2 separate regions of the Homo sapiens genome follow, and region 2 is linked to region 1. A link means that fine-mapping ties the variant in region 1 to the expression of a gene that starts in the linked region. Tissue or cell type: whole blood. Region 1 holds a variant in brackets; the other region holds the start of a gene. All regions are shown on one strand. Distances are from middle to middle.

The links. PIP is the estimated chance that this variant, and not a neighbour inherited with it, causes the effect.
Region 2: it holds the start of C2CD3, and the variant in region 1 is fine-mapped to the expression of C2CD3 in whole blood (INTERVAL, PIP 0.95).

What each region holds. Positions count from the first base shown.
Region 1 is chr11:74,106,712-74,109,476 of GRCh38, reverse strand. It overlaps C2CD3 (C2 domain containing 3 centriole elongation regulator), which reads left to right. Exons shown (of 33, transcript NM_001286577.2): 12 at 325-443. Among named protein-coding and RNA genes, the nearest start is that of C2CD3, 63 kb to the left of the region's middle. The variant G/TG (reference allele first, on the strand shown) is at 1,327.
Region 2 is chr11:74,169,739-74,172,503 of GRCh38, reverse strand. It overlaps C2CD3 (C2 domain containing 3 centriole elongation regulator), which reads left to right and starts at 1,502. Exons shown (of 33, transcript NM_001286577.2): 1 at 1,502-1,766. The coding sequence starts at 1,712. It overlaps PPME1 (protein phosphatase methylesterase 1), which reads right to left and starts at 1,215. Exons shown (of 14, transcript NM_016147.3): 1 at 982-1,215. The coding sequence starts at 1,082. RefSeq lists enhancers at 421-1,343, 1,121-1,570, 1,344-2,267.

The DNA of each region.
Region 1 (2,765 bases):
AACAGTGCTATTACCTAAAACCCAGTGAAGTATATAGATATGTCTCCTTACACATCCAGTACTCATATGATTGACATTCATTTCTCATGGCAAAGCGGAGCAACATAGCACTGCCTGTCTTCTGTGTACTATCTCCAGAGTTTTCTCTTTGTCCCTGCTCATTCAATCCTACAACCCTAGCACTTTCTGTGAAAGCACACTGACTCGATTTCTGCAGGAGATTTTAATTAAATTTGAAAGGGAGGCAGGTGGTATCAAGGCATGAATTGATGATGACTTCAGTTGGGTGGTGTGACATGTCTGTGTGTCTGGTTCTCCTTACAGAGGTGAAGTTCCAGCAGCGATTTGTGTTTCCAGTACAGTTTGGTGGCCCAATGATAGAGCACTGGTGGAATTCCAACCTCACTTTCCAAATTTATGTAAAGAAAACTCCACAGAAAAAGGTACTTTGAGTGATTTTGGCCTTTGCCTTACCTTCACACTAGGGATTTGGAGGATACCTAAAATTATATTCTTACCTAAACTAGGAATCTTCAGGTGCAGGCAGTACTAATAATCCATTGTTATTATTATTATTATTATTATTATCATTATTATTATTACTACTACTAATCTCTGCTGTTTGTCATGGGCCAGATATAATACTAAAGGCTCTACACGAGCACACTATCAATTTTAATCACCACAACTCTGTGAATTAGGTACATTATTATATTTGTTTTACAGATGAAGAAACTGAGATTTAGTTAACATGTCTAAGATCACTCAATCTAATGAAAGAGCCAGGACACCATCCCAAATCTGCTGTCTTTAGATCTCAAGTTCTTAACCTCTTTATTGTGCTGTTCCCTTCTAAAGAAAGGTAGCTATATTGATACAGGCTATTAGCCTTAATTTGAGGTTCTACTTCCTGTTTGCAGGCAGAATACATAAGGTATCCAAGCCCAAAATAATATAGTTGTGAGTAGCAGTTTTGATCAACTAATTCCAAGTTTATAAAATTGCTTGCAGCTGGCATAATGTAAATCAATAAACTATAACAAGCAGTTTTTACTTCCTTCAATAAAAGAGTAGTCTTTATAATCTTTTGACCTCTTATTTGGTATGGATAGCATGAAGAACATCTTGTTTTCTTTTATTTTTTTCAGAAGACATATACAATACAGGTCCTTTTTGAAAAATTATAGCAAAATAGGAATGGTGGGAAAGGCACATCATTTCATAACCTCAAGATAAACTCTATTAACATTTCAATGTATTTACATTGAATCATTTTCCTATACCTAATTAATGGCATTTTTTTTCTTTTCTTTTTTTTTTTTTTTT[G/TG]ACACAGAGTCTCGCTTTGTCGCCCAGGCTGGAGTGTAGTGGCGCGATCTCAGCTCACTGCAAGCTCTGCCTCCCGGGTTCACGCCATTCTCCTGCCTCAGCCTCCCGAGTAGCTGGGATTACAGGCTCCCACCACCACACCTGGCTAATTTTTTTGTATTTTGAGTAGAGACGGGGTTTCACCATGTTAGCCAGGATGGTCTCGATCTCCTGACCTTGTGATCTGCCCACCTCGGCCTCCCAAAGTGCTGGGATTACAGGCGTGAGCCACCATGCCCGGCCGGCATTTTTTTTCTAATTATAAAAGAGTTTTACGTATTTTTGTAGAAAACTTGAAAAATAATTTTTAAAAGGCAAAAATTGCCTGTAATTCTGTCACCAAGAAATAACTATTGTTAACATTTATGACTATCTGCATTGTCTTTTTCCAATGAATACAGTATGTTGTATAATTTTGTATGTAGGTTTTATTCTTCCTTTTTATCATTTAGCATCTTGAGGGTTTTTATTCATTTTTCTTCAAAAATATCTATTTAATGTTTTTCACATAATTTTGTATTTGAAGGTTTATGATATATATGAGTTAATACCCTTTTATCAAACATTATAACAGTTAATATTATTAGAAACTTTTAGTAAATGTCATTTTAATGGCTACATGTTATGCCATCATATGGATGTGCTATATAATTAGCTTAATAATTCCTGATTATTGGACAACTAGGTATATCTCATTGTTAACTACTTTTAACATATACATATTTGTGTATAAGCTTTTTATGCATTGTTTCTTATTTCTGTGTGTGTGTGTGTGTGTGTGTGTGTGTGACACAGTTTCATTCTTGTTGCCCAGGCTGGAGTGCAATGGCATGGTCTCAGCTTACTGCAACCTCAGCCTCCTGGGTTCGAGCGATTCTCCTGCCTCAGCCTCCTGAGTAGCTGGGATTACAGGCACCCGCCACCATGCCCAGCTAATTTTTTTGTATTTTTAGTAGAGACGGGGGTTTCACCATGTTGGCCAGGCTGGTCTTGAACTCCTGACCTGAGGTGATCTGCCTGCCTCAGCCTCCCAAAGTGCTGGGATTACAGGCATGGGCCACCGCGCCCAGCCTATTTATTATTTCTTTAGTACAAATTCCCAGAAATGGAATTACTGGGCCAAAGAGCATAAATATTTAAAGCTTTTAATATCTGTTACCAAATTTGCCATCCAAAAGCATATTGCCAGTTTATATTTCCAGCTTTACGCATATGACAGCCTCTTGTTTCTCCATAGCCTTGATAGCATTAGATATATTAAATTTTACAATTTCCCTAGTTTTAATAGCAAAAATTTGTGACATCTAAATTTTATTTTTTATTTTTAATAGTGAAGTTGAACATTTTGAGTAAGAATTAACTCTTAGTGATAGAAAAAGATAATCTTCCCACCACTTTGT
Region 2 (2,765 bases), 63 kb before region 1:
CACTAATTCAAAGTCTTAGGCCAGTACGTCGCTTCCCTCAGATCTACTAGCCCAGCAAAAACTGATTGCCCAAATCTTCCTCTAAGCTTCCCAGACCTTACAACTGCAGCACTTCCATTCACCAAACCGTATTTATAGTCATCTCTCAATCTTTAGAGCCTATGGTCACTCTGTAAATTCTTCAGTTCTCTCCTTCTTCTCTCTCCCTTATCCTGTCCAGCTTCTCACTCTGTAAATTCTTCAGTCCTCTCCTTCTTCTCTCTCCCTTATCCTGTCCAGCTTCTCAGCACATTCCTACTACCCTTAACAATCTTCGTGGCTATGTTCTCCACCTTACCTTAGGCCTACTCCCTAAACTTTCTCATTCTCCCTTAAGAGACCTAATCTCACCTCTCATTCGCTGAATCTGTCTTTACACCTCTGGGAATTCTCTAGAATCGTCTGCTTCCTAGTTCTCCTCTTTCCTTCTCCAGCCCTGTCTCGAGTGTTTTCTACCCCCCTCAGCTTTTCTAGTATCTAGTTCTCACAGTGCAGATATTAGAACTCTGATAATATCTACTCCTCCCAAACCTTTCCTTAGTTGTTGGCCCAATTCCCCTCAACTTTTCTCTCAGTCATTCCCCACTTCCCTCCACCTTCCCTGGCCGATTCTCCTCCACCTTTGTCACCGTTCTACTCCCTTTTCTAAGCCTCCTTTATTGTGGAAGTGATTCTCAGATCCCTTATGTTAGTCTCTCAGCTTCCCCAACCTTTGCCTCATTCCCCTCTCCCTTCAACAACGTTATTTTTCCTCCAATTTCTATTGACTTGGCGCCTCCCCTAGTACCCCAATCTGCCTTCTACTCCATCTAAATATCTCCAGGCCGCCAACATTTTCTCCTATCAGTAGACTCCTTTCCCGTGCCTCTATGAACGCCCAGAGATACCATTCTCCAACGGCTGGGGCCTGGCCCATAGGGAGAAGGGGTATGGGTCACGTACCCCATTCGCATCTTGGCTCCGCTCTGACTGCCCCCGCTGCCGGGTAGAGGTGGGCGAGAGGGAAGGCGGCCGAGGTGCATGCTCTTTTCGAGGGCCGACATCGAGGGGAGGCTGCACGCACGTAGTCAAACAGTAGGCGAAGCTTCGTCCCACGTTGAGTGTGGCCCAACCGGTCACGACTCGCTCCCCTAACGACGCCCTGTCGCCTTTGGACAGCACCCAGCTACCCGTAGCACCGCCTACCGCCCACCGGCTCCGTAAACTCCACCCACTCGCTTCAGCGCTTCCACCGGAAGTGCGCAACAGCACTCATACAAAGGAAGCTGGGTAACAGAGTATGAGAACTCCGCAGACTCCCGGCTGGGAACCCGACGACTTTCACCGGAAGGAGGAGCGCTCTTCAGGGCAATGCACCCTGCGCAATGGAGTCCACAAAGGGCGCATCCCTATGCGCTTGCGCAGCTGGAGGCGCCCCCCAGCCAACCCCGGAGAGGTATTGTAGCAAAGCGTCCTGGGTATTGTAGTGTATTGGAGGGAAGGCGTCTTGGCGCCTTCTCTTCGCACCGTTTTCCGGAGACTGTTAGAGGAAGAGTCGCTTTTTCCTGCCTCCCAGGCTGCCCAGCGGCGCCGGTTGCCGGGGAACGCAGGCGCCGTGGGGAGGGATGGCGGGAGGATACTGCTTAGGTGCTGGAGACGGAGTTGAGCTGGTGAAGAAGAGCTCGGGCTCATCATGAAACAACGAAAAGGCCAAGGGTCTGGGGGCAGCCGTGGGCGCAAAAAAAGAGGTAACCTGAGCGATCAAAGATTGAGGAAAGCGTAATAGGAGAGCAGGGTGTAAGGAATTTTAGGGAGACCCGCACCCCCGCTGGATAAACAAGAAAAGGGACGTAAGAAGGAAGTAGCCAGGGAACCAGAAGGTTAAAAGGAAGGGCAATTGGCCCTCCAGAGAATAGAAAGGAATTAGGGGCTGGGGTAGGGGCCACAGACAGGCGATTAATGAGATGAAGGTTACCGGTAGGATGACTGTAGAGGAGAAGAACAAACAATGATGGGATTGGTTTTGATAACGAAGTGAAATGTATGTGTGTGTGTAGCTTTCGAGGTCCACAGGGACAGGAAGAAACATAAATTGGCAAAGGGATTATATCATTTGTTGTGTGATTGTGGGCAAGAATCACGTTTTATACATTACTGAATGACCAAGGATTAGTACAAAGCAGGACTCGGTAAATGTTAGTTGAATGAATGAAGTATGAAGGGCTGACTATGAGCAGGAGTTGGGAAAAATAATTGTAGAGTATAGAGCCGGGAAGAGTGGGGAATGACAGGTGTGATAGGATTGGAGTGGGGGTAAGGGCATGACGATCTCCTGAAGGACCTGAGATCATGAAAGAGTGTGCAGCAGAGAGTCCTCATCAGGTTAGCAGCTCAAGGAGACACAAGCTCACCGAGTAGGGGATGTTAGCTGCAGTGAGAACAGTCAACCTAGGAACCCAGGGCAGATCAGGAAACTTGACATTGAATCTCTACAAGACTGCCTCGAAGGGAAAAAGGACAGTGGGTGACCCTGCCTTTTTGCATTGTAGGCAGTTTAGCGAGAAAAGAAGTATTGGGAACAGTGATAGGACATTAGGCCATTGGGTTGAGGACTGAAGCTACAATCTGGGAATTACTCTTATCCAAGCTGTTTAAAGATTACTAAGGCAGTTTTGAGATACTGACTTTCCTGCCAGGAAAGATAGGAGGATCTGAGACTGAAGCATACTAGTGCTCCCTGTGTCAAA